Linked DNA regions of Homo sapiens: region 1 is linked to region 2. Evidence: fine-mapped expression QTL. A gene starts in region 2. The other region holds a variant in brackets. All regions are shown on one strand. Distances are between the middles of the regions.

What was found.
Region 1: its variant is fine-mapped to the expression of NONO in whole blood (TOPMed, PIP above 0.99). The same link has a PIP of 0.9 or more in blood mononuclear cells.

The regions. Positions count from the first base shown.
Region 1 is chrX:71,406,822-71,412,200 of GRCh38, forward strand. It overlaps TAF1 (TATA-box binding protein associated factor 1), which reads left to right. Exons shown (of 38, transcript NM_004606.5): 27 at 753-851; 28 at 1,153-1,330. Among named protein-coding and RNA genes, the nearest start is that of TAF1, 43 kb to the left of the region's middle. The variant G/A (reference allele first, on the strand shown) is at 2,651.
Region 2 is chrX:71,281,411-71,286,789 of GRCh38, forward strand. NONO (non-POU domain containing octamer binding) reads left to right here and starts at 2,225. Exons shown (of 12, transcript NM_007363.5): 1 at 2,225-2,311; 2 at 2,987-3,043.

The sequences.
Region 1 (5,379 bases), 130 kb after region 2:
CAGCCTTAGATTCTCCAGTTGCCTTGCCCTGAGAATTATTTGTACTGTTCATTATAAGATTTCTAAAATATGTTTGTCTAGTTAGAGAAAGTGGATTTTTTTTTTTTTTTTTGAGACGGAATCTCACTCTGTCGCCCAGGCTGAAGTGCAGTGGCACAGTCTCGGCTCACTGCAACCTCCACCTCCCAGGTTCAAGCAATTCTCCTGCCCCAGCCTCCCAAGTAGCTGGGATTACAGGTGCACACCACCACACCCAGCTAATTTTTGTATTTTTAGTAGAGATGGGGTTTTGCCTTATTGACCAGGCTGGTCTTGAACTCCTGACCTCAGGTAATCCACTCGCTTTGGCCTCCCAAAGTGCTGGGATTACAGTGAGCCACCGTGCTCGGCAGATTTTTTTTTTTTTTTTTTTTTGAGACAGAGTCTCGCTCTGTTACCCAGGCTGGAGTGCAATGGTGTGATCTTGGCTCACTGCACCCTTTGCCTCCCAGGTTCAAGTGATCCTCCTACCTCAGCCTCCTGAGTAGTTCAGATTACAGGCACATGCCACCACACCCAGCTAATTTTTGTATTTTTAGTAGAGACGGGGCTTCACCATGTTGCCCAGGCTGGTGTTGAACTCTTGGCCTCAAGTGGTCCACCCACCTCAGCCTCCCAAAGTGCTGGGATTACAGGTGTGAGCTACTGTGCCTGGACAGAATGTGGATTTTTTTTGGTCTGAGGAAGCATTCTGATTTCACATTTCTCCTTAGAGACCTCATAAGTCCATCCACCGGCGCCGCACAGACCCTATGGTGACGCTGTCGTCCATCTTGGAGTCTATCATCAATGACATGAGAGATCTTCCAAATGTGAGTTCATTGCATTGGATATCTATAGTAGGGATGTCAAGGCCTTTTGTTCTGTCTGTGATTTCCAATAGAGGGCAGTAATCTGTAGATTTAGGTAACTGGAATGCCTAATTTTTAGGGAGTTAGTTTTTTTTGTTTGTTTGTTTTTTTAAGCAGTTTAGTAGAGGAAACAGACGTGCTCCATCTAGAAAGATTCCTTTCAGTGTTGATAGCCAGGTAGATAGGTAAGATGTGAAAGTCTTCAGGAATTGGCTCTGGCAACTGTTATTTGCTGATGTATGGTTCTGGCCCTTGTTTGCAGACATACCCTTTCCACACTCCAGTCAATGCAAAGGTTGTAAAGGACTACTACAAAATCATCACTCGGCCAATGGACCTACAAACACTCCGCGAAAACGTGCGTAAACGCCTCTACCCATCTCGGGAAGAGTTCAGAGAGCATCTGGAGCTAATTGTGAAAAATAGTGCAACCTACAATGGTAAGAATCAAATGTTCCGTGATTGCAAAGGTCACTGTTCAGATCCTTATTCCTTACTGGCCCTAAATTCAGACTAGATTGGACTGAGAGGACTACAGTGTATTTGTGCATTCATTTGTGGGTATGAAAATCAGGTAATGTACATTTTCAGTCATTTAATAAATATCACTTCTTTTTTTTTAAGGAGGGGGTTGGAGTCTCTGTCATCCAGGCTGGAGTGCAGTGGCGCAATCTTGGCTCACTGCAACCTCCGCCTCTCGGTTCAAGCGATTCTCCTGCCTCAGCCTCCCGAGTAGCTGGGATTACAGGCATGCGCCACCATGCCTGGCTAATTTTTGTATTTTTAGTAGAGACTGGGTTTCACCATGTTGGTCAGGCTTGTCTCTAACTCCTGACTTCGTCATCCACCCGCCTCAGCCTCCCAGGATTACAGGTGTGAGCCACTGCGCCCGGCCTAATGTCACTTCTTTTTATTCCCACTGTTTAATTCTTATATCCTTTGGAGAATTTGGAGTCTATTCGTTGCAATGAAACAGTTCCATGGAAAGTAGTGGAAGACGTGGTCCTAGGTTAGTACAAAAGAGAGACATTCGGCTGGGCGCGGTGGCTCACGCCTGTAATCCCAGCACTTTGGGAGGCCAAGGCAGGCGGATCACAAAGTCAGGAGATTGAGACCATGGTGAAACCCCCATCTCTACTAAAAATACAAAAAGTTATCTGGGCGTAGTGGCGGGCGCCTGTAGTCCCAGCCACTCGGGAGGCTGAGGCAGGAGAATGGCGTGAACCCAGGAGGCGGAGCTTGTAGTGAGCCGAGATCGTGCCACTGCACTCCAGTCTGGGCAACACAGCAAGACTCCGTCTCAAAAAAAAAAAAAAAAGAGAGAGAGACGTTCAGTGTGGATGGAACCTGTGTAGAGTATGCGCTTGTGACCATATTTGCTGTGTCTGAATCTTCGATTTGGTCTACAAATTTGTTAGAGGTGCTGTTACATGTTCACTTTGCTCAAAAGCTGAGAAGACAAAGAGGAAGAAATCTGTTTGTCTTTTTTTTTTTTCCCTTGTGAGACAGGATTTCATTCCTGTTGCCCAGTAGCCTCCTGAGTAGCTGGGACTACAGGTGCTTTCCATCACACCCTGTTAATTTTTGTACTTTTTTGGTAGAGATGGGGTTTTGCCATGTTGCCCAGGCTGGTCTCAAACTCTTGAGCTCAACCGATCTTGCCCACCTCGGCCTCCCAAAGTGCTAGGATTACAGGCATGAGCCATTGCGCCTGGCCTGTTGCTGTGTCTTAAAAAGAGGAAACAGTATAGCTTCTGCAT[G/A]TAAAGGATAAGGTTTTCTGGTTTCCATTTGCATCCTTGAGCACAGATTCACAGATATAAATGTAGGGATTCGGAGTACAGATAGAGTGTAAATCATGGCTCTGGCACTTACTAATTGAGTTACCATAGACAAGTTATTTAACTTCTCATACCCTCCTCAGTTTTCTCATCTGTAAACATGGGATAGTAGTACTACGTGAATTTTAAAACCTTTCACAAGCAGGCCCAACCCATTTATCTACTTTCCATCTCCAATAACTGGCTCCCATACCCACTATCGACCCCTGCCACACTCAGCATTATATTTCACAAAATATCCCTTATCATTTCTTCATGACTTTGCAGTCTTTGCTCTCTCAGTCTTTGCTCTCTTTCTGGGATGCCTTTCTTCCCTATATTTCCAGACCAACTCATATTACCTCTTTTTATTTTTTTTTTTGAGATGGAATCTTGCTCTGTCGCCCAGGCTGGAGTGCAGTGGCGCCATCTTGTCTCACTGCAACCTCCTCCTCCCAGGTTCCAGTGATTTTCCTGCCTCAGCCTCCCGAGTAGCTGGGATCACAGGCGCCCACCACCACACCTGGCTAATTTTTGTATTTTCAGTAGAGACGGGATTTCTCCATGTTGGCCAGGCTGGTCTTGAACTCCTGACCTTGTGATCCACCCACCTTGGCCTCCCAAAATGCTAGGATTACAGGCATGAACCACCGCGCCCGGCCGCATTCTTTTCTTTATTTCACCATAAGAAATCTTTAAAATGGATACTGTTATAACCCTCATTTTCCAGATGAACATACAGGCCCGTAGTGTTTAAATAGCTTAAAAAAATTTATTTTTTTTATGATGAGGTGATGGGTTGATGTGTGCAGCAAACCACCATGGCACACGTTTACCTATGTAACAAATCTGCACATCCTGCACATGTACTAAAAAAAAAAATAAAAGAGGAAGATGACTTTACCTTTAGGGGCATTTCTTTTTTCTTTTTTTTTTTTTTTTTTTTTGAGACGGAGTCTTGCTCTTTGACCCAGGCTGGAGTGCAGTGGCGCTGTCTTGGCTCACTGCAAGCTCCGCCTCTCAGGTTCATGCTATTCTGCTGCTTCAGCCTCCCGAGTAGCTGGGACTACAGGCGCCAGCCACCACGCCTGGCTAATTTTTTGTATTTTTAGTAGAGACAGGGTTTCACCGTGTTAGCCAGGATGGTCTAGATCTCCTGACCTCGTGATCCACTCGCCTCGGCCTCCCAAAGTGCTGGGATTACAGGCATGAGACACTGCACCCGGCCTTTTAGGGGCATTTCTAATCTACATTTGTGATTTTCTTTTTTTGGAGATGGAGTCTTGCTGTGTCGCCCAGGCTGGAATGCAGTGCTGCGATCTTGGTTCACTGCAATCTCTGTCTCCTGTGTTCAAGCGATTCTCCTGCCTCACCCTCCTGAGTAACTGGGATTATAGGCATGCACCACCACACCGGGCTAATTTTTTTATTTTTAGTAGAGATGAGGTTTTGCCATGTTGGCCAGGCTGGTCTCGGACTCCTGACTTCAGGTGATCTGCCCTCCTCAGCCTCCCAAAGTGCTGGGATTACAGGCGTGAGCCACTACACCCGGCTGATTTTCTCTTTTGAAGCAGTCTCACTCTGTCACCCAGGCTGGAGGAGTGTGGTGGTACAATCTTGGCTCACTGCAACTTCCTCCTTTTCTGGGATTCAAGCGATTCTCCTGCCTCAGCCTCCTAAGTAGCTGGAACTACAGCTGCGCCCCACCACGCCTGGCTAATTTTTGTATTTTTAGTAGAGACAGGGTTTCACCATGTTGGCCAGGCTGGTCTTGAACTCCTGGCCTCAAGCGATTCACTGACCTTGGCTTTTCAAAGTGGCGGGATTACAGGCATGAGCCACCACTAGGCTTAGGCATGAGAATCACTTGAATCTGGGAGGTGGAGGTTGAAGTGAACCAAGATCGCACCATGGCACTCCAGCCTGTGCGAGAGAGCGAGACTCTGTCTCAAAAAAAAGAAAAAAAAAGATAAAGTAGAGATGTTAATCCAGTTATATCTAACGTCAGAGCCTGTACTCTTAACCACCATGCTCCATATACTGTTCTCCACTTTTTCACTTACTGTTTATGCCTCACAACCCTGCACTTGTCTTCTGCTGAAGTACCAGCTACATCCTAATTGCTGGATCCACTGGCCACCTTTCAGAAGTAACCTTTTATTTAAACACCTTTATTGAAATATAATTCACGTACCATGCAGTTTAACCATTTAAAGTGGTCAGGTTTTTTGTTTGTTTGTTTGTTTGAGATGGTGTTTCGCTTTTGTTGCCCAGGCTGGAATGCGATAGCGTGATCTCAGCTCACCGCAACCTCCACCTCCTGGGTTCAAGCGATTCTCCTGCCTCACCCTCCCAAGTACCTGGGATTATAGGCATGCGCCACCACTCCCGGCTAATTTTGTATTTTTAGTAGAGACGGGGTTTCTCCATGTTGTTGGGCTGGTCTTGAACTCCCAACCTCAGGTGATCTGCCCGCCTCGGCCTCCCAAAGTGCTGGGATTAAATCAGGCATGAGCCACCACGCCCGGCTGGCTAAAGTGGTCAGTTTTAACATGTCATCCATATTGTAACATGTATCAGTACTTCATTCCTGGTTTTTTTTTTTTTTTTTTTTGAGACAGGGTCTCACTGTGTTTTCCAGGCTAGAGTACAGTGGTACAGTCATAGCTCAC
Region 2 (5,379 bases):
GGGTGCCCTGGCTCATGCCTGTAATCCCAGCACTTTGCCAAGTGGAGGCGGGATTCCTTACACCCAGGAGTTTAAGACCAGTTTGGGCAATATGGTGAAACCCTGTCTCTACAAAACATACAAACCCACCGTGGGCGTAGTTGTGCACTCCTGTAGTCCCAGCTACTGAGGAAGCTGAGGTGGGAGAATCGCTAGAACCTGAAAGGCAGAGGTTGCAGTGAGCTGTGTTTGTGCCACTGCACTCCAGCCTGGGTGACAGAGCAAGACTGTCTCTAAGTAAATAAATATAAACAGTACATACATAGAAAATAGAAACGCAAGAAAGTGGTCATAATTGCTATCTCTAGAGAATGAATGGGGGGGAGACTTTTTTTTTGAGACGGAGTCTCACTCATTGCCCAGGCTGGAGTGCAGTGGCGCAATCTTGGCTCACTGCTAGCTCCGCCTCCTGGGTTCACACCGTTCTCCTGCCTCAGCCTCCCGAGTAGCTGGGACTACAGGCACCCGCCACCACGCCGGCTAATTTTTTTTTTGTATTTTTAGTAGAGACGGGGTTTCACCATGTTAGCTAGGATGGTCTCGATCTCCTAACCTCGTGATCCTCCCGCCTCGGCCTCCCAAAGTGCTAGGATTACAGGCGTGAGCCACCACACCCGGCCAAGACTTTTCTCTTTATACTGTTGGGTATTGTTTGATTTTTCTTTTTTTTTCTATGAGTAAGTATTAGTTTTCTTCTTCTTCTTTTTAATTGAGACGGGGTCTCACTCTGTCACGCAGGCTGGAGTGCAGTGGCGCGATCTCCACTCATTGCAGCCTCTGCTTCCCGAGCTCAAGCTATCCTCCCACCTTAACCTTAACCTCCTGAGTAGGTGGGACTACAGGGACACTCCACCACGACAGGCTAATTTTTGCTTTTTTTCGGAGATGGAGTTTCGCCATGTTACCCAGGCTGGTCTCGAACTCCTAGGCTTAAGCGATCCTCCCGTCTCGGCCTCTCAAAGTACTGGGATTATAGGCATGAGCACTGCACCTAGCCGGAATTAAAAATTCAGGTTCTCAGTTGCATTAGTCATATTTCAATGGCCACTTATAGTTAGTAGCTGCCATATTGAACACAGCAGACATAGGACCTTTCCATCATTGCACACAGTTCTATTGAACAGCCCAAGTCTAGATCATTGTGTCCCCACATAAGGTGGTGCCCATTGGGATACCCTGCAACCCTGAGTGTGAATTAATTAATGGGAATTAACAACACATACTTATCAATTGATCCTTGTAGTCCTTGGTTAACCACGGGGGCGGGGCGAGTTAGGCATTACTGAAACAATGAAGGTTAGTTACTGATAGGCCTCCTATGGAATATACAGTCTGATCTAGAGGCCTACAATATATCCATGGCAATGATGACACCTGTTGAATCTCTCAGTAAATCATAGGAACAATAGTGATGTTTGGACTGCTAGGTTTTCTGGTTACCATGGAAATGAGGGTGCTGGTTACAATTCTGTGTAATCACGCAGAGCCTAAGGTATGATGCACCCCCTCCTCCCCCACCCCGTCTGTAACCATGACCAAAGAGTTGACTATTTCAGTTGCGTTTCCCGAGTAGCCCCAGCAACAGGAGAAGCATCTAGAAATATGATTAAGTATGGGGTGTCAGGATGCAAGCCCTAACAAGGAAGTGTGAAAAAAGAAACATGGCGGGGCATTTTTTTCAGTAGGAAAAGGCCAAATCTATTCCATTGAATACAATGACATTGTTACTCTTGCTTCTTGCACAGGCGCAGTGCAGGACTGCTCCGAGCACGCCTACGCGCGCATTTTCTCCCCTTCCTCTCCCTCTTTCCACTTTCCTCTCCCTTTTTCTCCTCTCCTTTCCCCCTCCCACCACTTGGTCTTTCAGTCTTTCAGTCAGTTCGTTTAGGTCTCTCCTTCCGACCCCCACCCCCAGCTCCTCTCCCTTTCCTTTTCCCCCTCCCCCTTTCCTTTCCCGTCTCACGCGCCAGGCCGCTTGCACATGCGCATTAGGTACAAAGCCTCGCTCTTTGTCCCCATCTGTCGTTCACACGAACTCAAGCCTTTGGCATTCGGCAGCCAATAGAATCTAAGAAATGGCGGAAAAATGATTCCGCCTCGGGAGCTAAACCTTGATTGGCAGTTTAGCTAACCAATCGAGAACGCCATTTTGTACCCCTTGGCAGGCACCGAGCTCCGTCGTCTCGTTTCCGGCGGTCGCGCGCTCTTTTCTCGGGACGGGAGAGGCCGTGTAGCGTCGCCGTTACTCCGAGGAGATACCAGTCGGTAGAGGGTGAGTTTTGGGACGTCTTGGTTCTTGTTTGGGAGGGTAGTGGGATTTCTTGGAACAATCAGCGAAGGAAGAGGCTAGGGCGAAGCTAGGTTTGGAGGGTGGATGGCGCTTCCGAGGCCCCTTGAGGCCTTGTCTCTGCCGCCACACTGCCTTCTCAGCCCACCCGCGGGGGGCCACCTTTCTCAACTCGCTTCGCTTCGGGCTTTCCCCATTTTCGTTCCTGCCCTGTTTCTTTGTGCAACTCATCTCCGAATCTTACCCGTGTCAGTAAGTTGCCGGCCTCTGAGCCGCCCTGGGCCCGACGGTGTGGGGTCTATTATGAGAGATCGCTGAAGTCGTGGTTGGTTAGAGGAGGAGGCGCTTTGTCGGGCGCTCCTCCTCTCGGCCCCGCGAGGCCATTAATTCAGAATGGGCAAGTGGGGCCCCTCAAGCGATATTTCTTTGTCAAAACTCTTAGCTGGAAAGTTCCTCTGCATATCCAGAGCCCGCCGCTTTCGTAGTCAGATTTCTGTATGCCCTTTTTCTAAAGTCCTAACCGCCTAGCTCCTTGACGCATTTATATAGCATCACTTTTTAAAATGAAACTTAAATTTATGGATTTCGCATCGAGTATTTTATTTTCCAGTTTGAGAAACTCTTACCATAACCTGACACGTTTCTTTGTGTTTTTAACAGAGAAGTCGAGGTTAGAGGGAACTGGGAGGCACTTTGCTGTCTGCAATCGAAGTTGAGGTAGGTGTAAGGAAGGGATAGGGTTGCCAGACAAAACACCGGGCACCCAGTTGAATTAGAATTTCACCTACACAACCAATTATTTTTAAGTATATGTTGCATAGTTTTCAATTAAATTTCAAATTTAATTGTGGGTTGTGTATTTTATTTGCTAAATCTGGCAACTCTAGTGGGGGGGCCCTGGTTATATTTATACTGTGTCCTTGTCCACCTTCCTTGTTATTAAATGAAAAGTCCTAAGAAACTCTTAGAGAAGGACCTTAGTTCATTTTACAGCTTTCAGGCTGGCCATCCAGGCAGCCATCTCAGTCTTGTAAATTTATACCAGATTTAGATTTCAGATATGTGTGATGTAGTGTTTGGTCCTCTACCTAAACATTTGTTTAACTGTAGCATGCCCAGTGGTTAGAGTCTTTCTCAACCAGCAATACGTGTTTTCTCTCAAAATTCTTCATCAGGATTATTAGTCTCAGGGACACAAGTAGACAGTAATCTTTGCTGCTGATCTTCGTGCTGTGTTCTCTTTTCAGAGGCCCAGTATTTAGGCGACAGTGAATTTATTACTCTGAAGAGGGTTCTGCACATATTTCCAAATTATATTGGTGGTCATCAGAAGTAGGTGATAGGAAGAAATACTTCTCAAGGTACTTGCTACTTGGTGGGCACTGTTATAGGTGCTTTATTATGATAGTCTTCACTAGTGCATTCCATCCTGGGCCTCTCCGGGGCCAGGGGAAGAGAGATGTTTAACACCTGGAACCCAAGTAGGAAAAGATTTGATTCTGATGCCCACCTTGCCCCATCCCCAACTATTTCCAGGGTGGACTTTAGATTTTGTATGTTTTAACTTCCTGCTTTTATATCTTATTTTTTAAAACACTATTTTCTTTTTTTGTTGTTTTTTTTTAAAGGTATCTCATTTGCCATGAAACTGCTACACCTGCTCATGGCGTTTAAAATCCTTACAACTTTTTGAGAAAACGACGTTGCACTATGTGGCAAGAGTCACAGGATAGATTCTATTTTTAAGAATTTATCCTATGGAAATAATTAAATGGAAATAAAGCTGAAAGCCAGAAGACATTTACTGCAGCGTTATAATAGGAAAAGCCAAAAACAACCACCTAAATGTCTTATAGTAGGGAGTAGTTTAGTAAAGTAGTACATCCTGGTGAACTTTATATAGTCATTAAAAATTACAATTATGTTGACATTAGCAGAAATGAGGAAACTCTGAATATACAAGGGTGCATTATCAGTTACTGAAATGATAATGTATGTCTAAATAAGCAAGAATGGAAAATTGTGGGAGGAATATTTAATCATGGATATGTCCAAAGATTTAGCTATGAGCATTGATTATAATGGTGAAAAATTAGAAACGACCCAGGTGTCCAACACAATAGGGACTTGGTTGACAACTGAATGCTGTGTCCGTTAACGTAAAAGATTTAATGACATGAAAGCTGTTTATGATACATCATAAAGTGGAAAAAACAGGTTACAAAATAGTATTTATCATATCTCATTTCAAATACATAAATTAATGACTAGAAGGATATACCAACATGTTAACAGTGACTATTTTTAGTGGCAGGTCTATGGATTTTTATATTTGTATTTTTATTTATTTTGGTTTTTCTAAATTTTCTATAATACATTTTGTAATAAGTATCTGATTGTAATTTCTGTTTAAAAATTTTTAAATAAAATTTTAAGTTGTAATTTCTGATACCTTATAACATTAATGAGAAACAAAATTGATTAAATGATATAAATGTGAAAATTTAAATCTTGGCTGAAATGTCAGATGTTGTGAGGTTTACCATCTGCCTCCTTCTCCCTATCCACTTTGCCTTCCTCCCCCATTTTTATTTATTTTCCCATAGCACTTACCTCTTAAGTACTATATAATTTACTTATATATATTGTCTCTCACTAGAAGCAAGTTCTGTAGGCAAGAATCTGCTTTGTTCACTAATCCACTGTAACCATCTAGAATAGTGCCTAGCAAATGGTAGGCATTCACTGAATATTTTTTGAATGAAATCGTGAATTGAAAAATTATCAGTAACCTAAAAGCAATGCAGTTGTTTTCATTTTTGCCTACCTTCTGTTCCCTTGTCTATATTCACATCTTTAAAATTAGAAAAAACCTTTCCCCGTTAGAATATCAGACATACTCGTGTTTATGTGGTCTTCATAATTTTTAAGGCTGTGAACATTCTGTTGTATAGATGTACCGTACTTTCATGAAAACCATTCCCCTAATTTTGGAAATTTAAGTCATTTTTATTGTTTTCTTACCATAAAGGCCATTACAATGAACACTTTCA